Homo sapiens: one gene and its partners. The protein of the gene in region 3 purifies or fractionates together with the protein of the main gene of each other region. This does not show direct contact. Each region holds a gene or a part of one and is shown on either strand. Other genes may lie near its edges.

The links.
Region 1: the proteins of SNX8 (region 3) and POR purify together in Homo sapiens (co-immunoprecipitation; 3 studies listed by BioGRID and IntAct, with this or other methods). This does not show direct contact.
Region 2: the proteins of SNX8 (region 3) and LACC1 purify together in Homo sapiens (affinity purification with mass spectrometry; 2 studies listed by BioGRID and IntAct, with this or other methods). This does not show direct contact.

The regions. Positions count from the first base shown.
Region 1 is NC_000007.14:75,971,094-75,982,665, forward strand, and holds part of POR (NADPH--cytochrome P450 reductase), read left to right. Parts: intron 1-1,319; coding exon 1,320-1,368; intron 1,369-8,357; coding exon 8,358-8,486; intron 8,487-9,245; coding exon 9,246-9,395; intron 9,396-9,954; coding exon 9,955-10,079; intron 10,080-10,423; coding exon 10,424-10,513; intron 10,514-11,130; coding exon 11,131-11,229; intron 11,230-11,572. UniProt on the Homo sapiens protein: This enzyme is required for electron transfer from NADP to cytochrome P450 in microsomes. It can also provide electron transfer to heme oxygenase and cytochrome B5.
Region 2 is NC_000013.11:43,888,442-43,897,542, forward strand, and holds the end of LACC1 (purine nucleoside phosphorylase LACC1), read left to right. Parts: intron 1-315; coding exon 316-541; intron 542-1,672; coding exon 1,673-1,832; 3' UTR 1,833-1,833; exon of another isoform or gene 1,834-1,838; intron 1,839-3,007; coding exon of another isoform or gene 3,008-3,161; 3' UTR 3,162-5,491; downstream 5,492-9,101. UniProt on the Homo sapiens protein: Purine nucleoside enzyme that catalyzes the phosphorolysis of adenosine, guanosine and inosine nucleosides, yielding D-ribose 1-phosphate and the respective free bases, adenine, guanine and hypoxanthine.
Region 3 is NC_000007.14:2,251,008-2,259,751, reverse strand, and holds the end of SNX8 (sorting nexin-8), read left to right. Parts: intron 1-1,948; coding exon 1,949-2,017; intron 2,018-2,174; exon of another isoform or gene 2,175-2,237; coding exon 2,238-2,387; intron 2,388-2,728; coding exon 2,729-2,878; intron 2,879-4,582; coding exon 4,583-4,696; 3' UTR 4,697-7,982; downstream 7,983-8,744. UniProt on the Homo sapiens protein: May be involved in several stages of intracellular trafficking. May play a role in intracellular protein transport from early endosomes to the trans-Golgi network.

The DNA of each region.
Region 1 (11,572 bases), about 74 Mb from region 3:
TGAGATTACAGGTGCGCGTCACCAGGCCCGGCTAATTTTTGTATTTTTAGTAGAGACGGGGTTTTGCCATGTTGGTCAGGCTGGGCTCAAACTCCTGACTCAAGTGATCCTCCCGCCTCAACCTCCCAAAGTGCTGGAATTACGTGCATGAGCCACTATGCCCGACCAAAAATGTCATTTTAAATACAAAAATGTATTTTCATCTTCAGGTTTGTCACTTGATTCAGAATGGCCATATTTCAAATCTCCACCACCCAGAGGAAGGTGTTTCCCACCTTGCTGTATTCAGCCAGCGTTTTTCACCTCCTTCAGCTTGAAAGTCCTGGGCAAGGGGCACTGGGCTTGTTCCTCTGGCCCTGCAGGCTTGGGGCAAGGGTCAGAAGGAAACAGAAGAACGGAAAATGGGGCGGGGTGAGGGGTGGTGCGGGGGTAGAAGGCCAGAAGTGGACAGTGGACAGAAGATTGTGTCACCCCAGCCTGATCCTGAGGCTGGCGGGCACCAGGCTGCCCTCTGGAGGGGATGGACCAAGGTGAGGGCTGTAGTCCCAGGAACGCAGAGAAGGGAAAAATGAAATGTGGCCCAGTGCAGGGGAAGCAGAGGGGGTCTTTGAATCCCAGGGGAGCTGACCCTTGCGCAGGACCTTGAGGGCAGAGCGGGGGTCAGCCAGGTGAGGGGACTGTGGCAGGAAGGCTCTGGGTGGAAGCGATGGCGTGCACAGGATTCTGAGGCCACCATGCAGGGAGGGGGTGTGAATTAGGCATCAAGCTTGGTTTGTGGAGGGGAGTGGCAGGTGACGCTGGAGACAGACTCTGAGGGGACTCATGTGCCCGGATCCCATGGGTCGTGGGAGCTGTTGAAGAGCGGAGCAGGGAAGTGGCAGATGTGAGAGGCAGGGGCTGGAGAAGGAAGAGGTGAAGAGGTGGAAGGTCAGGCTGAGGTCAGGCCGTGGGGACCTGGGCTGTGGGTGGGGAGGAAGAGGGAAGTGGAAACCTTGGCTCTTCCTTGAGGGAAACAAGCCCATATCTATCTGGGTGCAGGAGAGGTCTTGGCTTTGCAAAGCACTGGTGTCGCAAGAGGCTTTACTGTAGGGGAAATGGGAAGGGTGAGCTGGTGCGGGAGGCCTGGGAGCCCTGGTGTTGGATTAGAGGCCAGCTGCTGGCTTAGCCCCTGGGGAGTGGCACGGGACAAAGCTGGAATGTCCCCTCCCTGTGCTGCCACAGCATCCCATGAAACCTGCATCTAAGGACACCCACGTCCCGTGACACCTGTGTCCCATGACACCTGCCTCCCACGCTCATTGCACACTTTTGTCTTGCAGGACCTCCTCTGTCAGAGAGAGCAGCTTTGTGGAAAAGATGAAGAAAACGGTGAGTTTCCTGCATGTCTTTACTCTTCTCAGGAAGCCTCGGCCCCGATGGGCATGTAATCAAGTCTAGCAGACGGCTGGCGTCACCGCATAGAGGATGTCCCGGTGGCCAGGAGAGGGAACGCAGCCCGGCTCGCTTGGGAGTCATTCTTGCCTAACCAAAGCCCTGAAGCAGCTCTGCTGTTGCTGGGACAGTTTGTTTCCTTGAATCTTTACTTTTTGAACAAACCAAAGTCTAAGAACAGACCCTCCCTCTAACTCACGAAGCTTCTCCCGTCTGGCCCTGGCCTGTCCAGGAGCAGAGGTAAATCTCACAGAGCTGCGGTCGTGGCACCACTGCCATTTTCTCTCCGCTTTGTTTTTGTTACTTTTTTTTTTTTGAGATGGAATCTCGCTCTGTCACCCAGGCTGGAGTGCAGTGGCGCAATCTCGGTTCACTGCAAGCTCCACCTCCCGGGTTCAAGCCATTCTCGTGCCTCAGCCTCCCGAGTAGCTGGGATTACAGGTGCGTGCCACCACGCCCAGCTAATTTTTGTATTTTTAATAGAGATGGGATTTCACCATGTTGGCCAGACTGGTCTTGAACTCCTGACCTCAGGTGATCCGCCCGCCTCAGCCTCCCAAAGTGCTGGGATTACAGGCGTGAACCACCGCACCCAGCCAATTTAACTATTTAATTGTAGGCATCAGTACTACATTTACATAGTTAAAATAAAAACATCCACTATTCAGTGGAAAGCTCCCCTCTGCCACCCACTCATCCCCACTGTTCTTATTATTTATGGATCCTTCTAGAGTTCCTGTATGAACATACAAGTAAAACAAACAGAGACTCTTATTTTTAATTTAAAAAAACCTTTATTTTATTTTAGAGACAGGGTCTCACTGTGTTGCCCAGGCTGGAGTGCAGCGGCGCCATCATAGCTCACTGCAGCCTCAAACTCCTAGACTCAAGCCATCCTCCTACCACAGCCTCCCAAGTAGCTGGGACTACAGGTGCACACCACCACGCCTGGCTAATTTTTTAATTTATTCTTCATAGGAACAGGTTCTCGCTATGTTGCCCAGGCTGGTCTTGAACTCCTGGCCTCAAGCAATCCTTCTGCCTCCGCCTCCCAAAGTGCTGGGACTGTAGGTGCGAGCCATTGCATCCAGCCTACACTTTTCTTAAAACACAAAACGTGGCATACTATGTGCACTGTTCCAGACCTTGCTTTTTTTTTTTTTTTTTTTTTTTTTGAGACAGAGTCTCGCTCTGTCGCCCAGGCTGGAGTGCAATGGCACGGTCTTGGCTCACTGCAACCTTCACCTCCTCGGTTCAAGTGATTCTCCCGCATCAGCCTCCGGAGTAGTTGGGGTTAGACGCCTGCCACCGTGCCTGGCTAATTTTTGTATTTTTAGTAGAGACGGGGTTTCACCATGTTGACCAGGCTGGTCTCAAACTGCTGACCTCGTGATCCATCTGCCTCGGTCTCCCAAAGTGCTGGGATTACAGGCGTGAGCCACTGCGCCCGGCTGACCTTGCTTTAAAAAAAAAAGAACACAAAACAACTTGATATGTCTCAAAGATCCTTCCATATCAATACAAAGATACTGCCATCATCTTAGCTGTACCATGATTCCATTATATGGCCATCTGGATTCACTGTAACGCACTTAACCCTGTCCTATTAAAGATGGGCACTGGGGCTGTTGCTACTCTTTGGCTCTTACCAACAATGTCACTGTGAATATGTAGCTCGGTTTGCACATTTCAAATACAAAGCAGTCCCAGAAGTGGAATTGCTGGATTGGAAGGTAGATGTGTTTGCAATCGTGATAGAAGCTACAAATCGTCCCCGTAGGAGTCACACCGTGGCACGCGCTCAAGAATAGCGACGTGTGAGAAAACTGTTCCCCACAGCCTTGCCAACAGTTTGTTATTAAAGTTTAGATTTTTGTCAGTTTTCTAGGCTTAAAAAAAAAACTCAGTATAGTTGTAATTTACATTTTTATGAATGAGATTCAGTAGATTTTCACCCACCTAGGTCTAGATGGCTTCGTTTCTTTTTCTTTTTTCTTTTCTTTTTTTTTTTTTTTTTTTTGAGACAGGGTCTCGCTTTGTTGCCCAGGCTGGAGTGCAGTGGTGTGATCTCAGCTCACTGCAATCTCCACCTCCCGGGTTCAAGCAATTCTCATGCCTCATTCTCCTGAGTAGCTGGGATTACAGGTGCGTGCTACCATGCCTGGCTAACTTTTGTATTTTCAGTAGAGACAGGGTTTTGCCATGTTGGCCAGGCTGGTCTCGAACTCCTGACCTCAGGTCATCCACTCAACTTGGCCTCCCAAAGTTCTGGAATTACAGGCCTGAACCACCGCACCCAGCCTCTTTTTTCTTTTTTTAATAGATTCTCTCTTCACATCTTTTGCCTGCTTTTCTGTTGGGATTGATCTTTCTCCTTGAAATTATTAGGGAGATGAATCTCTTGTCTGTGATATAAGTTGAAAATATCTTGCCCGTTAAAGAGTTTGTCTTTTAGTGAGATTCCATCTCTTAAAAAAAAGTTTGTCTTTCAACCTAGCTGATCGCATTTTTATTTGTTTTGCTGTGTAAAAGTTACAGAGTCACCTATATGATTCTTTCTTTTCGTGACTTCTGGTCTTAGAGTCATAATTTGAAGGTCTTCCCCATGCTAAAGAGATAAAGATATTCCTGTATTTTTTTTTTCTAGTACTTTTAGGGTTTTGTTTTTCATATTCAAAATTTAAAATCTGATCTATTGGGAATTTATCCTGATGTAAGATGTGAGGTATGAATCCAACTCTACATTTTACATAGCTGTCTAAACACCATGTATTAGAGTCCATCTTTCCCCCACTGGTTTGAAATGCCACCTTTATCATATACTTAATTCCTGGGCTGGGCGCAGTGGCTCATGCCTGTAATCCCAACACTTTGGGAGGCCGAGATGGGCAGGTCGCTTGAGCCCAGGAGTTTGAGACCAGCCTGGGCAACATGGCGAAACCCCATCTCCACAAAAAATAGAAAAATTAGTGGGACACAGTGGTGCGCACCTATAGTCCCCGCTACCTGAGAGGCTGAAGTGGGAGGATAGCTTGAGCTTGGGAGGCACAGATTGCAGTGACCACTGGACTCAAACCTGGGCAACAGCTACACCCTGTGTCAAATAATAATAATAATAGCTGGGTCTCTGGGTTCTTTTCACTGGGCGCAACGTGTTCAAGGTTCACCCACACTGTAGCATATGTTAGTACTTCCTTTTTATTGCCAAATAATGTTTTAATATATGGATTCTTACTTATTTTTCCGTGACTTTTAGGATCAATTTGTTGAGGAAAAAAAAGCTGTTCAGATTTTTTTTTTTTTTTTTGGTAGAGACTGGGTCTCACTCTGTTGCCCAGGCTGTTCTCAAACTCCTGGGCTTAAGCAGTCCTCCTGGTGTGGCCTCCCAGGGTACTGGGATTACAGGTGTGAGCCACTGCACCCAGCTGGTTCAGATTTCTATTACATCATGCCACATTTCTCTAGTGACATAAATAGAGCTGCCATTTTTGTGGGTCGAGACTCCCTGTCCATAATCGGGGTGCTTTTCCATTGGCGTGAGTCCTTTGTGTGTAGTTCAGTAGCTTCTGACACATCTCTTACAAAGTTTATTTCTAGGTATTTTATATATTTTGATGCTCCTGTAAATATTTAGCTGCTATCTTAGGTCATCTTTTGTTCTCTTAACCTGATAATCATGAGCACTTTCTCTTCTATTAAGTATTTTTACGGTGATTATTTTAAAATATCCTTTTGGGCGAAAACCCTGTCTCTACTAAAAATACAAAAATTAGCCGGGCGTGGTGGCATGCACCTGTAGTCCCAGGTACTCGGGAGGCTGATGCAGGAGAATCACTTGAACCCGGGAGGCGGAGGTTGCATTGAGCCAAGATCGCACCACTGCACTCCAGCCTGGCCAACAGAGCAAGATTCCATCTAAAAAAAAAAAAAATCCTTTTGGCCGGGTGCAGTGGCTCATGTCTGTAATCCCAGCACTTTGGGAGGCTGAGACGGGCGGATCACCTGAGGTCAGGAGCTTTGAGACCAGCTGGACCAACATGGTGAAACCCTGTCTCTACTAAAAACACAAAAAATTAGCCAGGCATGGTGACGGACACCTGTAATCCCAGCTATTCAGGAGGCTGAGGCAGGAAAATCGCTTGAACCCAGGAGGCAGAGGTTTCAGTGAGCCGAGATCGCACCACTGCACTCCAGCCTAGGCGACAAGAGCAAAACTCTGTCTCAAGAAAAAAAAAAACAATTTTTAATGATTTAACAATGATTTGTGGAAAATTCAGGAACTTTAAAAAGTATAAGAACATTTATTGTAATCCCTAAGTTTTTTTTGGTGGTGGTTTTGTTTTGAGACTCAGTCTCACTCCTGTCACCCAGGCTGGAGTGCAGTGGCTCAATCACAGCTCACTTCAGCCTCAACCTCCCAGGCTCAAGTGATCCTCCCACCTCAGCCTCCCAAGTAGCTAGAACCATAGGCATGCGCCACCACACCCAGATAAATTTTTTGTATTTTTAGTAGAGACAGGGTTTTGCCATGTTGCCCAGGCTGGTCTCAAACTCCTGGGCTCAAGTCATCCTCTTACCTCGGCCTCCCAAAGTACTAGGATTACAGAAGTGAGCCACGGCACCCGGCCGCGTAAGTTTTATTTTGTATGAGGTGGGATTCAGTGTGAAAACTAGAGACTACTTTAGGCATTTTAATCTGGAAGGGATTTCACACAGGGAAGGGGGTACTTCCAGGTTACTGGAGGGGCTGAAGGAGCAGGTTGGTCTCTAAGATATCACAGAAGCAACCTGCAAGGTAGCTGCTCTGTTCGAATGCAGCCTGAAACTGTTGAGTTCAGGACACACCACGTGTAGCTGTGATCCAGGATAAGAAGCTACTTCTACAGCTGCCTCTGAACATCACATAAGCCAGTAGCCAGGACTAGGAACTTGCAGTCTGGCTACCAAAACTATTAGAAATACCTCAGGTGGCTGGGTGCGGTGGCTCACGCCCGTAATCCCAGCACTTTGGGAGGCCAAGGTGGGCAGATCACCTGAGGTCAGGAGTTCGAGACCAGCCTGGCCAACGTGTTGAAACCCAGTCTCTACTAAAAATTCAAAAAAATTAGCCTAGCATAGTGGTGGGTGCCTGTAATCCCAGCTACTCAGGAGGCTGAGGCACGAGAATTGCTTGAACCCAGGAGGCAGAGGTTGCAGTGAACTGAGATCGTGCCATTACACTCCAATCTGGGCGTCAGAGCGAGACTCCGTCTCACACACAAAAATAAAAAAAAGAAAAGAAAAAAAGAAAAATGCCTTAGGCACTGAAGACCAGGCACTGCAGAGAACCTCACATGTGCATGAGGGGCCAGGAAGCCTTGGCCTCCCTTCCACCCTTCAGATCTTGCAAAGCACGTTCAATTGGCTGAACCGAATTGGCTGCAACTCCAGCCCCAACGGGCTCTGGGGAATAGGATTTCAGGCTTTTCAACAGCTGCTGGAGGAGGAGGGTGGACTGACGAGTATGTGAGCCAGCCCCTAGGACCTTTCCCTGTTGTAAAATTTTATAATGAATATGTATTTAACCAGCAAAACACATCCAGAATGCCCCATTTAGGGACCCTCGGTATATTTCTTGCCAGTCTGTTTTCTTTGTGCCTGTGGGTATAGAAAGAAAATACATATGTATGTTTTGATATACATATCTATTATTTATATAACACAATTGGATTGTATAGCCAGCCCTGCATATCCGTGAGTTCGGAGTTCAAGAATTCAACTGCAGACTGAAAATATTTGGAGAAAAAATGGATTGTTGTGTCTGTCCTGAACACATACTGTCATCTTACTGTTCCCTAAACAATACAGCATAGCAACTATTTACAGAGAATTTACATTACATTAAGTATTACATTAATAAGTAATCTAGAGATGATTTAAAGTATGTTGGAGGATGTGTGTAGGCTACACACAAATACCACATCATTTTATAGCAGGGACTTGAGCATCCTTGGATTTTTGTTTTTTGGGTTTTTTTGTGATGGAGTTTTGCTCTTGTAGCCCAGGCTGGAGTGCAATGGCGCGATCTCGGCTCACCACAACCTCTGCCTCCCAGGTCCAAGCGATTCTCCTGCCTCAGCCTCCCAAGTAGCTGGGATTACAGGCATGTGCCACCATGCCCGGCTAATTTTGTATTTTTAGTAGAGACAGGGTTTTCTCCATATTGGTCAGGCTGGTCTTGAACTCTCGACCTCAAGTCATCCACCCGCCTTGGCCTCCCAAAGTGCTGGGATTATAGGCGTGAGCCACTGGAGGTGGAGTCTTGCTCTGTCACCCAGGCTGGAGTGCAGTGGCGTGTTCTCAGTTCACTGCAACCTCCACCTCCTGGGTTCAAGCTGTTTTCCTGCCTCAGCCTCCCTAGTAACTGGGATTACAGGTGCACGCCACCATGCCCGGCTAATTTTTGTAGTTTTAGTAGAGATGGAGTTTCACCATGTTGGTCAGGCTGGTCTTGAACTCCTGACCTCAGGTAATCTGCCAGCCTCAGCCTCCCAAAGTGCTGGGATCACAGGTGTGAGCCACCACGCCCGGCTGCATCCTTGGATGTAAGTATCTATGGGAGGTCCTGGAACCATTCCCCCACGGATAGGGGCTATACATTTGGTTACTTTTTTTAACTTTGTTTTTTCCCCGTGTCATGAAAATGTCAGAAGTGTGATCTTGAGCAGCCGCGTGTGTGAGATTGCCTTGGTGACCTTTGCCCTCCTTTGCCACAGTGGCTGTGACAGTGAGAAGCAAGTCCCAGAGGAACTTAGAAGGGACTCAAAGCCAGGAAGGAAAGGGGGCGGCCTGGAGGGCCCCCGCCTGCCAGGCCTGCCCAGTGGGTGTTCACCGGAGCCGTGGCTGAGGTCTGTGGCCCTCACCAACCCTGTGTCTGCCTTCCTTAGGGGAGGAACATCATCGTGTTCTACGGCTCCCAGACGGGGACTGCAGAGGAGTTTGCCAACCGCCTGTCCAAGGACGCCCACCGCTACGGGATGCGAGGCATGTCAGCGGACCCTGAGGAGTATGACCTGGTAAGCTGCCACCGCGTGCTGGCCCCAGATGGAGGCAGTGGGTAGGACAGGGAGCAGGTCTGTAGGGCGCCCCTCAGCAGGGGGAGGCCGGCAGGGAGTGGGGTCCTGGGAAGACGTCCTCGGAAGTTGCCTTCCCGTGAGGGTCATTGCCATCCCTGCCCGGGCTGACTGACGGAAGGGCCATTCCTGCAGTTGCAGCCACGTGCCAGGCATCGTTTCCCCAGGACTGGCCCTCCCCTGAGTGCCGGCTGCCCTCCTGGCGGCCGCCACATCTCCCAAACCAAACCCACCCTCCCCAGCTGCTCCACTCCCCTCTCCTTCGAGGTCTTGGTGACGGGCACTACCCCACAGCCCTCTCCAGGCTGCATTTGCAGTTGATGAACAGTTTAGTTAGATATCAGTGTGCACCGGGGCTGTGCGGTGCCTGGGAGCTTTGGAATGAGGTTCCCAGGGTGGCCCCAGACCTGCATCAGCTCAGGAGGCTGCATTCTGATGGCTCTTTTGTGCCAAGCTTCACTTTCCTCTAGAAACACATCCTCTCCGCTCCAGCCTAACACGGGTGACCTTGTCCTGCCCACCTGGCACAAATGCCCATGCCCCAGCCCCTCCGTGTTGTTACTTCTCTCTGATCCCACGACACTCAGACATCCCTGGCCTGGTGCCACCCTGGGCAGGACCTGGCCTTCCCCATCTGGTGCGGGTTGAACCTTGAACAGGCTCAGTCATGGCCGGGGCGCGGTCCTGTCCCTGTTTCTGCAGGCCGACCTGAGCAGCCTGCCAGAGATCGACAACGCCCTGGTGGTTTTCTGCATGGCCACCTACGGTGAGGGAGACCCCACCGACAATGCCCAGGACTTCTACGACTGGCTGCAGGAGACAGACGTGGATCTCTCTGGGGTCAAGTTCGCGGTGAGTCACCCAGAGACTGCTATGGGCTCCCGGTGGCCTGCGGTGCCTCCCTGGGGACTCCAGATCCATGTATCTGAAAGGCAGCCCTCCAGACCCCCACCCTGTCCTCAGCAGCCAGGGCAGGCCACTTGTGAGACCCTCTCCTCTGCCCCAGACCCCAGCACTACGAGAATGTCCCCTCCCTGTCCCCAGCCCCAGTCGGCTCCAGGGGGCATTGGGTGCTGGAGACTAAAGGCAAGAAAGGTCTGGCTGGACGACTGAGACCTGCCTGGCCTCGGAGAGCTGGAGCCCCAGCCCGGTGGGGAGGGTGGGCTGGCCCCGCTTCCCTGTGGGTTGAGGCTGGCAGTGGACGGGGCAGGCTGTGGGCTGCAGGTCAACCAGATGAAGCCTCTTCAGTGGCCCAGTGTTCCTTGCAGTGCGAGGCGCCTGGTGGAACGGAGGCCTGCAGGTGTTGCCAGCAGCTCAGCCAGTGCTGTGGGGCCTCCCGCCCTGCCCCCATGGCCCCTCCCACTGGTCAGGTCGAGGGCCAGGCCTCAGAGCGGCCCCTGTGTCCACGCAGGTGTTTGGTCTTGGGAACAAGACCTACGAGCACTTCAATGCCATGGGCAAGTACGTGGACAAGCGGCTGGAGCAGCTCGGCGCCCAGCGCATCTTTGAGCTGGGGTTGGGCGACGACGATGGGAAGTGAGTGCCCACCCTGCCACCATGATCAGCGCGGCGGGCTTAGGCAGGGGCCGTGGAACGTGAGGGGCGCGCACACCATTGTGTCAGCTGAGACTCAGCGACACGCACCTCCAACACAGAGGGAAGGGGCTCTCCTGCCTCTGCCCTGCCCCTGCCAGTTTTGCTTTTCGGCTTGCCCAACTCCCTGGAGCCTTCCTGATGCTCTGGGTTTATGTCGCTGGGTGCCCCAGGGTGCACAGTCCTGAGCTTTGGGGATGGGGTGGGGTCGGGGCGTGCCTGGCACCAGGTACCGTTGCCACATGGGCCTCCCCTGAGCCGCTCCCCCTCTCCTCTCCTCGGCCCAGCTTGGAGGAGGACTTCATCACCTGGCGAGAGCAGTTCTGGCCGGCCGTGTGTGAACACTTTGGGGTGGAAGCCACTGGCGAGGAGTCCAGGTGAGCAAGTGCCCGCAGGTGCGGTGGGTGGCCTGGGCGGGTCCTGTGCCGAGGGCAGCCACCCTGGAACAAGGGCTGGCAGTGGGTCGCAGCAAGGTTAGAAGACACTCCGTCATAGGGTCGAGGAGGGACCTTGGTCCCAGCCAAGGACTCACTCTGCCACGTTGCTCTGCACTGCCCTGGGGCAGCGGGGTGCATCCCACCTCTCGACAAGGACACATCGCGTCGGGCTCTGTGGCTAGGTTCAACTTTGGCAAAAGGGCTCATTTCCTTAAAATCTGCCTCCACAGACTTGGCCAAAAACATAACGTTCCTCTCTGTGCCCTTGATGGCCCCTGGGTGCTGCCCGGGCTTCCTTACCTTCTCCCAGATGGAAGCCTGCCCAGCCCTGCCCCGGCTTCTGGGCGTCTGGCCCCCGGCAGCTCCACGCCGCCTCCCTCCTTGCTCCCTCGCCTGCCCTCCTTGTGCATCTGCAGCAGGGGCTCCCCTGCTTCTTGTCGTATGTACCTGGGACCTCACCCCAAAGGCCATGCACGGTCTCCCCTGTAGTCCAACCCCTCCCTCTCGGGACTGACCCCTGCCGCTTCCCGGCCTCACCCTTGGTCTCCCCTTTCCAGCATTCGCCAGTACGAGCTTGTGGTCCACACCGACATAGATGCGGCCAAGGTGTACATGGGGGAGATGGGCCGGCTGAAGAGCTACGAGAACCAGAAGCCGTGAGTGGAGGGAGCGTGGCTTGGGGCAGACGGCTCTATGGCCACTGGTGCACCCCAGGCTCAGTCTGCCGTGTATCCCCATATCCCCACAGGGCCCTTCTCACCAGACCCCGTGCCCCGAGTGGGTGTGAGTGTCCACGACCTGTCCACGGCCCGGCCCCAGGAGACTGGCACTCGCCCAGTTTGTACTGAGCTCACTTAGCCACCTTACTCTGCACTGCCCAGGGCAGCGGGGCACATCCCACTTCTCGACTAGGACAGTGCATTGGCCTCTGTGGCTAGGATCCTCTTTGGCAGAAGGGCTCATTTTCTTAGAATCTATCTCCATAGATAGACTTGGGGG
Region 2 (9,101 bases), on a different chromosome or scaffold from region 3:
AAATTTTGTGGGTTTTTAACCACAATCTTTTAAAATGTGAAAAATAGAAGACTAAGAAGCTATGATCTCAGTGGAAACTAAAAGTATAGAGCATCTTTAAATGGAAGATGAAGAAAACTCCCATTACATGTCTCTTCTGTGTCAGGTGCTTTGTGTAGTATGGCTCATTTAAAAACCACATGATAATGTAATTTATTATTTCTGGACTTTGAAAAATATACAAACTAAATCTGCTCACTTTTAACTTAGACATAAATTCAGGTGAAATTTTTTATGTTTTGACTTCTCTTATCTCTTTTTATTCCTATTTACCAGGTTGGAAAGGTACTTTGTTGGGTGTTGCTATGGCTACAGTGAATGCTATGATAGCAGAATATGGCTGCAGTTTGGAAGACATTGTTGTTGTACTTGGACCTTCAGTAGGACCTTGCTGTTTTACTCTTCCAAGGGAATCAGCAGAGGCATTTCATAATCTTCATCCTGCATGTGTACAACTATTTGATTCACCAAATCCCTGTATCGACATCCGTAAAGCCACAAGGTATGTCTGATTTCATTCAACTGCAAGTTTGATTATTTCTGATTGTTCTAAAATGAAATTTATTTTGGAGAACAATTAATAACTCTAAGAAGAATTTAGGTGGTGGTTATTTAAGCAGCTGACATGCACATGTACACAAACACTCATTTTAAATATGAAATCTGTTTTCATTTGAGTTTGAATAACAGAAATTTTCCTGTCTGGTATCTTTCATTGATTTAAAAGTGAAGGAAGAAATATTTGGCATTTAATTTTAAGAGATCTACTTAAACTTCATATAGAAAAGTTGGCGTGTACTTTACTTCACAGCCATTCCTCAGCTAAATTCTCCTAAATGTAATGAACTATCAGGAAGCTGATATTTTAAAATTATTCTTATTATCTAATTAACTAGAGGAATATGTTTTTTAGAAAAAATATTAGATAATATAAATACACGGTTTTTTACTTTTAAGTTTTTTACAGTTCTTCGCATCTTTTAATTTACAAGGTTTTGTTATTAATAACTGGTGAAAATTATTTGTCATTACTACAAAGGCAAATTAATGTATGTTTTAAATCATGTTTCTATTCCAGTCGCCAAAACTTTACCCAGAGTCTGCCTCATTTAGTACAGATGTGGAAAAGTTTGAAATTGATTCTTAAATGTGACTTTTAAAATCAAGTATCACTAACTTGTAGTCATATTTCATATCATAAAGTGTTCATGGAGAAGCAAGTTTTCTGAGAAAAATCTGGCTAATAGAAGGAAAGGAGATGAAGGGCCAGATGACTAAAAAGCATACTCTGGCTGAGCCAGGTGAATTTTGCCTGATATCCTGGTAACTTTTGTAGACATTTCTTCTTAAATAAGCACTTGATTTTGATTATAAAATTCTGTACCTAGATTATGTCTATAAGACAATATGGAAGGTTGTACTGTGCATATATGAACTTAGGTGATAAATGCTGATAAAGTGTAGCATTTTTTTCCCTGACTAGTCCATGTTCTGTAAGTGAATAACAATATACATTGTTCTAGGTACATCTTTCCTGGAACTTTTTCATGCCAACATCCATACTTTTTTTCATATTGCTTTGGCTATTGGGAAAATAAACTCTTGCTCTCTTTTGAAAAATATTTTTCCTAAGGATTCTTCTAGAACAGGGAGGAATTCTTCCACAGAATATTCAGGACCAGAACCAAGATCTCAACCTCTGTACATCTTGCCATCCTGACAAGTTTTTCTCCCATGTCCGAGATGGCCTTAATTTTGGTACACAGATTGGCTTCATATCAATTAAAGAATGAGGTACAGTAGGTTTTCTCTCCTCTCTCCGTTTTTCCTCTCTTTCATCCCTCTCTCCACTTCTCCCTCCCTTTCTCTTTCTTCCTCTTTTAGCCTATTCCTCCCCTTATTTAAAAAAAAAAAGTTAATTATGTTAAACTTTACTCCTTTATTCCTACAGGGAGAATGATGTTTCTACTTTTTTAGTGATGTAATAGTGGTAGCAACGTTCATTTCCAATAACACTCTATTATGAAGAGCAGCCACTCCTTTTCCTAGTTAATGAAGAATAATTAGGCAGGCTTATGTTAAAAGTATAAAAATAAAACAATTTAATCTTTAAAAAGGTATGTAAGTATTTCCTTTCTCTCTACTATGTACTTGATATCTGTACATTCCCTATCCTCACATCCTTATAACTTTCATGTTATTTTTGAAAACAAATCTTTGCATAAACATTCTGAATTCTAGAATCATAAGAAATTCTCACAAAGAAACTAGCTTGATTTTCAACTAGATTTCCAAATGATTATCTGCAGTTGGAGTTGCCCAAATTTTTATTTTAAAATGACAGTAAGTAGTTTAGACTTTGTGGGACATACAGTATATCTCAGCTACTCAGCTTCGCCATTGTAGAGGTAGAGCAACAAGAGATACTGACAACATAGAGATGAATGAATATGTCCGTGTTCCAATAAAACTTTGTTTACAAAAATCAGGCGAGGGAGCCAGGCACAGTGGCCCTGCTCCTGTAGTCCCAGCTCCTCGGGAGGCTGAGGTGGGAGGACTGCTTTAGGCCAGGAGTTTGAGTACAGCATGGATAACATAAACCCTGTCTGTAAACAGTAAAATAAACAGGTAAGGGGCCAGATTTGGCCTATAGGCTATAGTACACTGACACATGATCTAAAGTCATACAGCAAGACTGAGTGTAATTTTCTTAAAATAGTATTTATTAGAGATGGTTTTGTTGGAATTATACAAAAATATTTCATGGCACTGATTTAGCACTGCCCCTATAAGATATGTGTAATTTTCCCTAAGGTTACTTCTAGCTGAATTAATATTATTTTTTACTCTTTACAATGTTTTTAGCTCTTTAACTTACAGAAAAACTTTAATAGACTTCATGACTCTTACCTTGATATTCTAATAACACCAGTAAGCGTCTCATATTTGATTTCTATGTATTTTACAGATACTTGACTGGATTTTTGTATAACTGCTTCCTGCCTCCTTCCAAACTGACTGCAAGAGAGAAATTTAGCTGTTTGATTTACTTAAAACCAAATGGATTACAATGGATAATTCATCTTTTGGGTATATTTTTACTATTATTCAAAGCCAAATGATTTTCATTTAATTGTAATAATAACTGACAAAAATCAGTATGTTGTAGCTAATATGTTTTATGCATGAGAATTATTCTTAAAGTTTGTTCTCCCTGTTTATTACACAGATCAGGAATAGATTTGTTCAGTTCAGTATTTATTGGATACCCTCTATTGGTCAGGCATTGTGTTAAGCATATGTGAATCAAAATGAACACAACTTTTTCCTTTGAGTCTGATACAGTGAAGGAGATAAACACTTCTACAACTTAAATTTAATTTTAATAGCAGTAGAAGAGAACATAAGGAATAGAGGTTAATTTTACCCAGAAGCAGGATAGAGAAAATATTACAGAGAAAATCACATATCACATGGGCTCGAAAGATGTAGAGGTTTTTGACAAATGAAGAACAACCATAACAGGTAGAGGGAACACCATGAACCAGGGCATGAAACTGAAAGTGCATAACATATTCTAGAGAGAGAAGGGTGTGGGCATGAGTTAGGGCTGGAAAAACAGGTTGGAAACAGATAAGTAAGGGTCTCAAATGCAATGTCAAAGAGCTTGCAGTTTATTTTCCAGGCAATGAGTAGGCAGCCAAAAAAAAAAAAGTAAGGATGTTTTTTTTTTTTTTCCCATGGCATCATATTTAAGAGGATGGATTTAAATTGTGTGAGACCAAAGCATAGAGACTAGATAAGAGGCGATCAAAATATTTCAAAAAGAAATAATGAAGATCCAATGAAGGAAGTGGAAATTAAAATAGGGAAGAGAGTAGATGGATTAGAGAGACATTTAAGAGATGGAATCAATAGATCCTGTTACTAGATAATGGAAGTAAGAGGTGAGGAAGAGTGGAAAAGTCATTAATGACTCTAAGATTTCTGCTTGGCTGCTTACCAAGATTGGCAACAAAGGGAGGGAGAAGGTTTGGAAAAAGAGAGAAGGATAATGAGTTTGACTTTACATAGAATGAAGGGCATCCAGATAGAAATCTTTGGTTAATAATTAGAAATATAGACCTAGAAATTAGGAGGAAACCTGAGACAGAGACAAATATTTCAAAGCTTACAATACAGAGATGATACCTGATTCTATTGGAGCAGGTTTGATCATCTAGGCAGAAATTAGGATGAGAAAAAAGGAGATCCAATAATACAACCTTATAGTCACAGAAGTAAGAAAAAAAGGGTAGTTGTTTTGAAGAAGCCAGGATAGGTGTGGAAAGTACTCAAAAAGAAATCTTCAGGGATAAAATAAAGTGATAATTTAAAAGAAATCAATGGATTAAACATATTGAAACTGTTCTATAGGCAGTGGTCATTGAGTCAGCTTTCAGTGCATTAGGAAGAAGATGCATAGGTGTCAACTCTTTTCTGACAGCATTTACTAGAGAAGAGAAAAAGCTGGGGACTACATCTTCAAGGAAGGGACTTTTTTTGGATGAGCAGTTTTGAGTGTGTTTGTCAGTTAAAGAGAGGAATTAGGTTAGTTTTCATTTGGGAAAAATTGTATATATATTTAATGTAAGTTATCACATTGCATCTTAAAAATATTCTTATTTAATACATATATTTCCTACATGTATATGTGGTAGCATGATAGCAAATAACATTTGTTTGGTATTTCCAAAGGACTTTCATGTACATTGCCTCATTTTACCTTTACAGCTACTCTGAAATACACAGGCATTATCCCTTTTATTCAGCTGAGAAAACTGAGCTTCATTGAGGTGGAGGTCAAAAATCACAAAATTTGTGATGAATTAAGATTTGAACATATGTTTTGTGACTCCAGTTTTCCTTTCAGATTTTAAAATTAATTAAAGGGATCTTCATTATACTTTTATTGTTAACTTTTTGTTAACATAATTTATTCATACATTCAGTGAAAATTTTGTTGAGGTACTGGGACAGGTTAAAAAATACAGTTGTAGCCCTCAGGATATTTAATATCCAGTGAAAAGTGACAGTCAGTAAACCAACAATCTCAATACTTTGATATATGTTGTGAGGTTGTGATAACCGATTCTTGTTTAGTTTAATTCTATATCTCCCTTAGACCAGTGTTAAATTTAAATAAAACACCTCATTTTTTCCAATTCAGGGAAGGCACTAAACATAAAGCATAGGATAGAAATGTTGAACTCATCCAAAATATTATTTTGTTTAATGAAAATGATGAAGATTAAGGAATACTTCCATGTATTGAGTAAGGTTGATAATTTTCTAATTCTTCACTGTGCATTATTTTGTTTGAAGTTGGTAAATTTGGAGTATCCTGCAGACACATTTTGCTTTATGTACTACAACATTCTACAACCAAATAAAAATTATTTTGATTATCTGATTTTGGATTATCTCTGCCAAAGTATATAATGAAAGGTTGTCTCCTTGCTGCTTTACTGAATGAAAAGTGTTGATTTAGTAACTCCAAACTATCAGGTTATTAAATAATCATCTTATTGTGTCTACAAGATAGCTGTCACTCTCACATATTTGTATGTAGGTTTCTAGGACTTTTGGGGTACAACAACAAAGATTTCTAGTAAGTTTTGTTTTTGTTTTTAATTTTATTTTAAATTTATAAATAACAATGGTACCTATTCATGAGATACATAATAATGTTTCCATTCATATAATGTACAGTGATCTGACCAAGGTAATTAGCATATCTATCATTTCGAACATTTTTCTTTGTGTTACGAACATTTAATATGTTCCTTCCAGCTATTTCAAACTATATAATATACTATTGTTAACTATAGTTATCCTACAGTGGTATAGAACACTAGAACTTATTCCTCTTAAAGTTTTGTTTTTAATCTAAGCACTGCTACTAACTGCACATAGGAAATATTGATTGCTATTTTATTAATAAGGGGAATTAAGTTTGTAAGTCAAATAAACATTAATGAAATACCTTTTTGAAAATACTATCAAACTAAAACTTACTGGGCCATTTATCCAACTGTAATTTTAAATTGTGAAAAATAGCACAGTGGCCAAATATGCTATACCCCAGTGCTTTATAAAACAAATAAGATGACCTTACCACTAGGAGGTGGTATTTCAACAAGTAGCTCTACTATTATTTCTTGGTATAAAGTTGAACTAATCTTTTTTTTTTTTGAAAAAAATCAACTTTATTTTTTCTAGGTTTAAAAAAATAGAACCAGCTATTAATTTTTGTTGAGAAAATGCATCTTTTGGTGTTCACATCTAAATTTCTGAAAAGGTGATCTGGTTACTAAAATCATCCCAAATACATTCATAAACCAGATCCACGTGTGACCAGCCCTTTACAAAAATTAATTACAGTTGCCACAGCCTTTACATTCATTCTTATCACACGTTACAACATGCAGATAACACAAAGAAAGGTCAACAAGCTGAAGTAAACATTACAGCATCAGGAAAATGAAAACCCATCTGTATAAAATAAATACAATTTTGTAATAACTGTAAAGAAAATGAAAGCACTTAATAAAAATAATGGCAGTTGAATGTATAACTGTCTCATCTCCCAATCATAAAATAAGTTACTGTAAAATGCATAGACTCCTTACACTTAAAGAATTTGTGCATCACAGTCATGTGAAGTTGAACTAATCTTAAACTCTGTATTTTCTTGTGGAATAAAAAGGGAGGGGAGGACGCATTTAAAGTTAGTGAATGTATTGCTCTTACTTTAGGTATAACGTGGTAGTTCAAGTAGATAAAAGCATTTAGGAACCCTCACCCACTTCTATCTCACTCCTACAGAATCTCTAGTAATTGCTTTTCTGTAAGTAGATTTTTGGGAGAAACTCAGAGAAGCTTATTCTATGTAACATGACAAAACAGAAATAATATCTATATATTCAGCAGCTGGAAGGAAAGATAACAGTGACATACGAGTTATATGCTTTTATATCTCAAAGTGGGATTTGATATTTATTTTTACTTGATTGTCCTAGAGTTATACTTCCAATGTATCCATCTTACTTTTTGTGTGAACTCTTAGAGAATGCTACCAATCTATGAAAGTTCAGCACTTTAAAGAAAGCATTACTCAGTTATTGTGTGTTATCGTGTTTGTATGCATGAGTCTTTGTGTATGTGCTAAATGGCAAATAAGAAATATGTGTGTTAAATATGACACATAGCCTTTTTGCCCTAGCTAATATAAATTAACACACACATAACACATTGGATGCAGTAGAATAATAGATTTCTCTCTATAGATTTTTTAATAAATTATGCAGTAAAGAATGGAAAGCATGGTCCATATGCTTACTGGATGTGTTTGTGTGAACCCTGATCTAGGGCACGTGCATTTCCATTGTAGGCAGTGTTTTTAAAGTTTACTTGTGATTTCAAAGATTGCCATAAGCAATGCATTGTTCTGTGCTAGGTCATTGCTTAATGAAGAAAAAAGAAATCTGCCAGTACTGCTTTTTCCAGATTAACACGTTTGGTTTGAAGTCACAGTGATTACATGTCAACTGTGTTGAGACAAACTTTTCATACTCTCCTTAGATGCATTTTTGTAGAGAAAGAAATGCTTACATCACATTCCCCATGTCCTTTTGCCAAGCGCCTGAGGTGAGCTATGTCTCTGCTGTATTTGGAGCAGACTTTTTGTTTTATTTAATTCTCAGAAGGTTGAGGTGTCCAGTTACTACATTTTGTTAAACAAAATTTCCAGCAGACACTATAGCTCAAAATACCACATTCCTTTCTAACCAAAAACAAAACAAAAGACAAAAAAGGGGAGTAAAGGGAGTACTCTCATTTCATGAGAAACATTTGTAGAAAAGAGATTTGTTCATGGTAACAATTGGGTTTTTAATACCCTTCATTTTCAGAATTCTGCATCACACGCTGCTTCAGTTTACATCTCACCATGCTTTCCTGTTCCTTACGTTTTTAAAGCTCATGTTTTAAGGTTGTATTTTCTTTCTTTTGTTGTTGTTTTGTTTTGTTTTGTTTTGTTTTTGAGACGGAGTCTCGCTCTGTTGTCCAGGCTGGAGTGCAGTGGCGCGGGCTCTCGGCTCACTGCAAGCTCCGCCTCCCGGGGTTCACGCCATTCTCCTGCCTCAGCCTCGCCAGTAGCTGGGACTACAGGCGCCCGCTACCACGCCCAGCTAATTTTTTGTATTTTTAGTAGAGACGGGGTTTCACTTGTAAGCCAGGATGGTCTCGATCTCCTGACCTCATGATACACCCCCCTCGGCCTCCCAAAGTGCTGGGATTACAGGCGTGAGCCACCGCTCCCGGCCAAGATTGTATTTTCTTATCCCTCCCATCAGCCTCGTTTTCATACTTGATATTTCATATTTACAAGGTACCTTCATTCCTTTGGTTTTCTACTTTTCAATACATATCCAGATTTGGCTAATAGAGTTATCTGTTTGACATATCCTGTGTCCCCTCAAATATATCCTCCAAACTTAACTCATCATCTTCTCTCCAAAACCTGCTCCCATCCTGTCTTCTGTCTCAGAGAATGAAATCATTATTCATGCAGTTGCCCAGCCAGAAACCCTGGAGTGTTTCTGAATGCCTCCCTTTCCGTCTCCCCTTCCCTTCCCACACTACTGACTGTATGTCTACCATGTGTTCCCATGTCTCTCAACTTTCACAGACATTCAGGTCATCATCTCTCACCTGTATCATTAGAGCAGCCTTCTGACTAGTCTTTCCTTATTGAATCCCTTCTTACAGTATCATTATTGATTGTTTTAAAATGCAAATCTGGTCATATTACATCTCTCAAAAAATTTTTATGGCTTTCCCACTGCCTCCAAGGTAAAGACCTACTCACTAAAATGTATAAGTGCTGTCATCCTCTTGCCCCTGCATACTTCTTTAATTTCTACCACTCCCCATGCTGTAGCCATTCTGTACTTTTTTCATTTCCTAGAGTATGCCATTAAGCTAGGCCAGACCAAATAGGTTGGTTGGCATTCAAAGAC
Region 3 (8,744 bases):
TGGTCAGGTGGGAGCTGGGCACCTGCGGTCAGCTGGCGTTTTCTCTCTAGAGTTTTAGAAACTCTTAACACACCTCTTCTCCTGGCACATTTTACTGGCTGGAATCCCAGCTGCTTTGGGTGTGGGGTTGGTGGCCGGGGAGCCTCCGGGTTCAGTCGGCCTGAGGTCTGGAGGGTGGAAGGGGTATCTTAGGGTCCCCTGGGGTGCAGCAGGGCCTGGGCGGCACCCCTGGCTCCCATTCCAGGGCTGTGTCCCGTAAAACTCGTTCCATCCACTTCTGCCTGCCCCGTCTCCTGCTGAGCTTGACGTGCAGTGCGTGGGGTGAGCTTTTCACCCCCTACCACGGGTGGAGCCCGAGGAATCGTGGAGGGAGCTTGGTCTCCCCGAGGTGCTCAGTGAGCTGTGGGGACTGAGGGCGTGAGCTGTGGGGACCGGAGCCCTTCAGGGCCCGGGTGTGACTGAAGGCGTCAGTGTCGGGGGTTTCCCCAGGATACCTGCCATCGGCCTGGCTTGGTTGCGGTTGTGGCTGGGGGGTCTGTGGTGAGCTGTGCAGGTCAGGGGTGGATGGGCTGCCGCTTCCGCTGCCTTCCCCAGACCCCTGCTGTCTCCAGAGCTTGGATGCTCCCCTCAGTGGCAGCTGGAGCCCAGGGCTTTGGACCGACTCTTCATACCGCAGATGCCTCTGAGCACCGTGTGTTCGGGCCGTGTGCACTGTGCCTGGCCTGCGCCCCCACCGAGGGCTGCTACTGGTGTAAGCCGGGGAGGCCGAGGCAGCGTCTGGGTGGGGTTCGCCCGTGGGGGCTGCTTCGTGTCCCCAGGTGCTGTGGTGACTCTGGGAGCAGGGCATCCCTCTGCCGTGATGGGGCCCCTGTTCCACTCCAGGGCTGCCCGCCGTTTGCTGTGCACTCACTGCCCTGTTGGGCTCTCTCTGTGGCTGTGCTGCCCGCACAGAGCCTTGTGTGAGGGCCGAAGAGGAGCCTGTGTCCACCGCTGCCCCCACCGCCGAGTGTGGTGCTTCTGCGTGCAGCCTGGGGCGGCCGCCTCTCTTCCTGGATCAGCAGCACGTCCTTCCTGCAGCTGCTGTCTCTCCTACCTACCCTGCGCCCCCTTCCCTGTGCCCCCTTCCTAGGCCTGCGTTTCTCTCTCCTGTTACTGATGCGGAGACAACACCCTTGTTCTCCTCCGTGCCCCTCCTGGGCGTGCCCGTTTTGCACACGGCTCACAGCGTTATATGGGAACTCGGGTTTTCTGCAGTGCTTGATGGAGCCTTAGGGGTCGGGGGGTCTGGGGCATCTGGCTCTCCCAGCATATGTGTTGGGAGAGTCGCCGGCTTTGCGAAGGCCTGAGAAAGGCAAGGCAGGCCGGGCTGATGAGCAGGAGGGCGGGCAGCTGTCCCGCGGGAACGCAGGCCTTGTTCCCATCAAGACTGCTGGGCCAGGCCCAGCGCGGTGGCTCACGCCTGTAATCCAGCACTTTGGGAGGCCGAGGCGGGCGGATCACGAGGTCTGGAGATCAAGACCATCCTCGCTAACACGGTGAAACCCCGTCTCTACTAAAAAAAGAAATACAAAAAATTAGCCGGGCATGGTGGAGGGCGCCTGTAGTCCCAGCTACTCGGGAGGCTGAGGCAGGAGAATGGCGTGAACCCGGGAGGCGGAGCTTGCAGTGAGCCGAGATCGTGCCACTGCATTCCAGCCTGGGCGACAGAGCGAAGACTCCGACTCAAAAAAAAAAAAAAAAAAAGACTGCTGGGCTCGAAGGCGTGTCCGCCTGGTAATGGGTGGGCTGGTGGGGAAGGGGGCCCCCTGCAGACCTGGCTGGTGGTCCTGGGGAGCCCGTCTGACTCTGGGAGGAAGGAACCGGCCCAGGCCAGGCTTGGGTCTGAGTTCCCGGGCAGGGACCGGGTCCTATGTGCGTCCGCGTGGGTGAGCTCCCCCTCGCCTTCCAGGGTAAGCAGGAAGAGAACGACGTGGTGGAGAAGCTGAACCTCTTCTTGGATCTGCTGCAGTCCTATAAGGTGAGTCTTGGCTGCTCCTTGGCTGGGGGCAGAACTTTCAGGAATGATCTTAGGATCCTTCAAGGGTCTAACTCCTGGGGGACGGAAGAGGAGCTGAGAAGCCAGGGCTGCAGGGGAAGACGGGGCCTTCCGTCTGGCGGGGGTGCTTCCCTCGGCCGGCTCCGCAGGGCCCTGGCGCAGGCATCCAGACAGCGGGCGAATGCCTCCCCCGGCCCCGCAGGACCTGTGCGAGCGGCATGAGAAGGGCGTGTTGCACAAGCACCAGCGGGCCCTGCACAAGTACAGCCTGATGAAGAGGCAGATGATGAGCGCCACCGCGCAGAACCGCGAGCCGGAGTCCGTGGAGCAGCTGGAGTCCCGCATTGTGGAGGTGGGTGGCGGGGCGGCCGAGCAGGCCCGTGGGAGCCTTTCCCCTCCCGGCCATGGTGGGACCCGGAGCCGTCCTGGTGGGCTCCCCTGGGTTGGCTCCTTGTGTCTGGAACAGAGCTGGGGGTGCAGTGGAGGCAGGGAGCTGGCCCGCGTGCCCAGAGCGATGCGGCTCCCTGCACGGTGCTCCCTCCCCGGCCCTCTCTTACCTCGCCACCTTCCAAATGCCTGGTGAAGGCTGAAGGAGAAGGGGCCGCCCTGGCTCAGGGAGCACGCTGGTGTTCGGGCCTTGGTGCTCCCGTCGCCGGCTGGGCCGGGTGCGAAAGGCGGCTGTTTGCTCCGCAGCAGGAGAACGCGATTCAGACGATGGAGCTGCGGAACTACTTCTCCCTGTACTGCCTGCACCAGGAGACGCAGCTCATCCACGTCTACCTGCCCCTCACCTCCCACATCCTCCGCGCCTTCGTCAACTCTCAGATCCAAGGGCACAAGGAGGTGAGTCCGCCCTGCTCCGGCCGCCGTCTCGGCCACGGCCTTTCTTTGTCCCTCCGCCCTTCCTTCAAGCCCGGCAGCGCGGTGGCCGGCCGCCCTAGAGAGGTTCTTTAGTGGAGTTGGGCTCCGCATGGGCCTTGGAACACGGTGCTCGCCCGGATCTTCTAGTCTCCTGTGTAGCCAAAATCAGAATCGTGAGGGTGTCCCTGTGATTCCTGGGGGGCGGAGGGAGGAGCAGACAGGGAGAGTTTGCCTCCTGGAGGGATTTGAGAAGTCGGAGGTAAAGCCCGCAGAGCTCCCGCACCCTGCGGCTGAGAGAAGGTTTCTAGCGCTTCGGAGCGCCGCAGGTGGCTGTTCTTCCAGAGAGCCCTGGCCGGCTTCCTCCAGAGCAGATGGCGGTTCCTTCAGCCTGGGAGAAGAAACGCTCCCAAGGTCCTGGGACAGGCCTCCGTTGATTTCTGGTGGCCAGCTCACTGCAGCACCGCTGGGATTACAGGCGAGCACCTTGTGCCCGGCTGAAATTAAGTTTATTAAGTAGCTGCAAGTAGCTTTCAAGCCATGGTCTGTGGTGTGTGTGGAATGGCACCGAGTGTCTGGGGTGGTCACGAGATTCCACACTGTCCCCGGGAGGTGCTTGGTGCCGTGGGTGCCGTCCAGCACTTTGGGAATGGCAGGCTGGAGGCGGCCGTGGTGGGGCTGGAGAGGCGGTAGACAGCCGCCGTGTTAGGAGCATCACTGTGAGATGGCCAGGGTCTCAGGGACCAGGTTGGACTTGGACATGTGAGTGGCCGGGTGTGTCCTCAGTGAAGGAATGGGACCAACAGGCGCCCGGAGCATGATGCCATAACCCCAGTCCTACCAGGTTTTTTATTGTGGTGGTGAGGAATTTCCAGCCCTGTGATGCTGTGTGCGCTGTGGTCCAGTGACTCAGCCTCCCCTGCAGGCCCCCAGGGTGCGCCCTGCCCTTCTCTGGCCACCTGAGCCCCTGCACGGCAGGTCTTGGCCTGACCCCTGCCTCACTGCCGCGCTCCCCTCCTCACATCCACAGCATCCGTTCCTTGCCCTGGTTCCAAAAGTGCTTGGCGAGTGGGGCCGCCGTTTGCATTCCGGTTTGGGTATTATTGATTTGGTGGATGTGGTCTTTGTGTTTTTGGTTTGCTTTTTGGTTTTGAGGTGGAGTCTTGCTCTGTCACCCAAGCTGGAGTGCAGTGGTGCAATCACAGCTCACTGCAGCCTCAACCTCCCGAGTAGCTGGGACCACAGGCAGGTGCCACCACATCCGACTCATATTTCTGATTTTCTGTGGAGACAGGGTGTCCGTGTGTTGCCCAGGCTGGCCTTGGTGTTTGACCTGCCAAGGCTTCCATGAGGCCAGTGCCCGCACGGCAGCTAGAGCATGTACTGGCAGTGACGCGATAGTAACGTTTCTCACGATTCCACGGCAGGCAGATTTGCAGCCCTTTGGTCCTGGGTGCAGGGATCGAAGCGTGGGTGTCTGTGACCACAGGTCACATGTCGCTGGTCCACTCCTCATTTGGGCTTCCTCTGTGCAGGATGGGCAGCACTGGTTCTGCCAGAGGTTTGAGGAGCTGGCGCACCTGAGGGCCCCTCCCTCCCTGTCACTGGCAGGCGAAGGAACTGGGATCAGAGCGTGAGGAGGAGCCCCGGCCCCGCCTGCTGATCTTGTTCTCTTCGCTTCCCTTTCAGATGAGCAAGGTGTGGAACGACCTGAGGCCCAAGCTCAGCTGCCTCTTTGCGGGACCACACAGCACCCTGACCCCACCGTGCTCCCCGCCGGAGGACGGCCTGTGTCCTCACTAGCGCCTGAGGCTGAGGTGGTGCTCCCTGCGGCCGCACTAAAACCTCTTTCCAAACGGTGTGTCCCGGTGTAATTCCCTTTGGACGGCAGCTCCCCTCCCCGCCACGCCCCGTGCTGCAGCTGGAGCAGAGGAGCTCACGCCTGCGGGTCGGGAGGCGCATCCGTGGACCATGGGGGCAGCTGGGCCACACTGTCCTTCGCCCTGTGGCCTGCTAGCCTGGTCGAGAGAGGTGGTGGGGTTCTCTGGAATGGTTTCCTCCTGACACCCAGAGCTGTGCGGGGAGGCAGGGATCTCTCATCTCACAGAGATTGTGCCTGGGGGAGCGTGGAGGCAGGGCCTCCAGGTGCTGGAACAGTCGGGAGGGGCAGCATCATGGTGCTCGGTCAGCCGAGGAGAGAGGGCAGGGCTGCCCTGCAGCCCAGGCATGGGACTGACCACGGACAGCGAGGGGACAGCCAGTGGTGCTGAGGCTGGGAGGGAGGGCCATTGGGCGTGGGGCACGCACGGTGAATTTTCTAGGGAAATTGCTGCAGTCAACACCTGGAGCCCTGGTCTGGGAGTGGCCTGTGGGGTCCAGTGGCCTCATGCCCTGTGCCCATATGATGACCCCATGTGTGCCTGTGTCCACACCATGACCCTGTGTGTGCCCAGGCCTGGAAGACAAAGGCGTGACGGAGAGCTGGGGCTCTGAGAGTGGGCGCTACAGCAGCTGTGTTCTCGTCCCCTGGACTCCCTTGATTTCTGGTGGCCAGTGTTGGGGTCTGCACCGTGTGGCACTGAGGCTGGATGGGCTGGCAGAGGACAGGTGGGGGCGTGGGGGGGCGTGTTCCATTCCAGCTGAGGCTTTAGAGGAGGGACAGCCCCCTTTTAAGTGGATTTCCTTCTCTGAGGCACCTAGAGCCCTCCTCCCAGCCTCCCGTCACGCACTTGCCGGCCCAGCCACCTGCTCACAGAGGGAACCAGTGGTCTTTCAGGCCCCTTCCCTGCTCTGGATGAAGAAGGCCATTCTCCTGAGCTCTGTGGGGCTGGACTGTCCGCCTCAGGCCTGGGTCTGCTTCTGCCCGAACCCCTTTTGTGGAAGGTACATGGGAGCCCAGTGGACCCCTGCACTTCTCCGGAGCCTGACGCCCCTCCCTGGCCGGGGAGGGGTGCTGGAAGAGGCCCGCCGGGCTCCAGGGTTTCCGAGGTCCCTCCGCTCCGCAGATGCTCACTGGCCTCTGGGGCGTTCACTCCTCTCACGGAGGGTGCTTCCCTTCCGCCTGTACCTACGGGCAGCTCACGGCCGTGGGATGGAGAGGGGACTCCTGTGTGTGCCCCGCAGGCAGGTGATCCATCGTCCACTGCGAGCCGGCCAGAGGGAACGGCCGTGCCTTCTGGCCCCGTGGGCTGTGCTGACTCGGTGGCTGTGGGGCTCGGGCCCAGCCTGCCCTGCCCTGTGGGTTCTGCTGCTGCCTTCCTGCTGTGAGGTGGGCTGCTTCCTTCTGGCCAGATGAGCAGAGGGCAGCGTTCCCTTTGGAGCCCGATGGGTGGGCTGTCCCGTGAGTCCCTAGTCCACCCGAGTCTTGGGCTGCGCTGCCTTCTGACGCCCCTCTGCAGAGACAGGTTCTCAGTTGCCATGAATGGCACCATGACACCCGAGCCATGAAGCGTGACCCCGTGTGGGCAGAAGGCTGCAAGGCCTCTCCGTCCACCCCGCACCTTCCTGGGGCCTGTCCAGCTGCAGGACCATAGAGGCTGTGGGGAGTCGTGGAGGGCATCAGGTGCTGGGGCCTCTGTGTCTCCAGAGTAGGCAAGGCACGCGCTCCTGACAGCCCCCAAGGATTGAGCAAGACTTCAGAATGAGCTTTTCTGAAGGAGCTTTCCTGGCAGGGACTCCGGGGTCAGTGAGTGTATGAGAGGCCACATACCTGGCGGCATCTCCCTGTGTTGGAAACTTCAAGAGCAGGGTCTCAGGGTCCTCATGTCCAGAGGCTGAGGATGGAGGTGGAAGGCTGGAGGGCAGGGGTGAGGAGGGAGCAGGAGGGCAGGAGTTGGGGGAGCAGGAGGGCAGGGGTCAGGAGAACAGGAGAACAGGGGTAAGGGAGGGCAGGGGTGAGGGGGAGCAGAAGAGGGATGAGGGGGAGCAGGAGGGCAGGCGTTGGGACAGGAGGGCAGGGGTGAGAGAGCAAGGGGGCAGGGGTGAGAGAGCAGGAGAGCAGGGGTGAGGAGAGCAGGAGAGTAGGGGTGATGGGGAATAGGAGGGCAGGGGTGAGGAGGGAGCAGGAGAACGGGTAAGGGAGGGCAGGGGTGAGGGGGAGCAGGAGGGCAGGGGTGAGGAGAGAGCAAGAGGGCAGGGGTGAGGAGAGCAAGAGGGCAGGGGTGGGAAGGCAGGAGGGAGGTGGGGGGGCAGGAAGGCAGGGGTGGGAGGGTCAGGAGGGCAGGGTGAAGGGGGGGCTGGAGGGCAGCGGTGACGAGGGCAGCCTGTCTCCCACGTGTGGTGGCTGCTTCCTGTGTGCCCTGGGGTTGGCTCTGTGGAGGGGTGGGCACTGGCTTTGGAACACCTCCCTCCCCTTCCTCCTCTGCCACCCAGTGCCTTCTAAAGGGCAGCAGAAAGAGGCCTGCTAGGCAGGGGTGGCGGAGGCCACCTTCCTTCTCACAAATACTTCTTGGCCCTGGCCCTGTGCTGCCCGGGCAGGTCCCCAGGCTCAGGGGCTGAGAGGCTGCTTACTGCTGCAGGTGGAGGCCCCATGCCGGAGGGAGAGCGGGGTTCCCCCCATGCCTCTCCAGCCCTCCTGCTGCCCACGGCCCAAGCCCAAGCTTGTGCCGGTCATTACGGCCTTGCCTAGCTGGCAGGGACAGCTGCGTGTGATGCTGGTGGAGATGCCAGATGCCGCCTGCCCTGTGAGGACGGCTGGCGGGGCCGTGGGAGGGGGGTTGTGGGCTGGCGGGGCTGTGGGAAGGGGGCTGCCGATCATGGTGAAAGGGGACATTTTCATTGGGTCCTCGTGGTCCGTGTCCTGGGTACTCGGGGTCACCGTGCAGACAGCTGCCCTTTGTCTGCCGGACACAGTGCAGGCAGGGGAGACAGGTTTAGGGCTCTGACATGGGGCACAGGGACTCCGAGCCAAGGGATGTCAGGGCAGCTCTGTGCATCTGAGGCCTTTGCCCTTGCTTTGCGGGTCAGTTCATGTCCAAAGCACTTTAGGAGGCTGCAGGGATCAATACCCAATATACCCAACAACTGGAATTGTTTACACATGACCTACATTTTGGACGGTTTATCAATAAACATGTGTGAACAACTGTTATTAAACGTGTATGAAAGTTGGGCAGGGGAGGGGACTAGCCTATGAGGCGTTCAACCTGGGTTTTAGCCCAGAGCCCTTGGCCGAGCCTCAGCTTCCCACACTGTGCAGGGGGGTTTTAAGAGGACACATCCCCAGCTTGTGGCACTGAGCATGTGTGTCTCTGCCCTGGGCCAGCTGCCCACCTCGGGGACAGAGTCTCCATCCTCTCCCACCTCTGTGCAGCAGTGCGGGCTGAAGCCCAGCACATCTGGTAGCTTCCTGTGGACGGGACCTGGCAGGCTGTGCTGGTGTCTGGAGAAGAACGTTTGAAAGGTTAGAGACCGGCCGGGTGCAGTGGCTCACGCCTGGAATCCCAGCACTTTGGGAGGCTGAGGCAGGTGGATCACCTGAGGTCAGGAGTTCAAGACCAGCCTGGTCAACATGGTGAAACCCCATCTCTACTAAACAGACAAATATTAGTTGGGTGTGGCAATGTGCGCCTGTAATCCCACCTCTTCGGGAGGCTGAGATGGGAGGATCGCTTGAACCTGGGAGGCGGAGGTTGACGTGAGCCGAGATCGTGCCATTGCACTCCAGCCTGGGCAACAGAGAGAGACTCCATCTCCAAAAAAAAAAAAAAAAAACCACCGCTAGATAGCTTTATTTTCCCTTCCATCCAGTTAATTCCAGATGAAACCCGGCTCTGCGCCACTCAATGCCCCCAGGTGAAGATGGTTTGCGGCTGTTCAGCAGCCACGTCTCCTGCCCAGGGGCTGCCCTGGG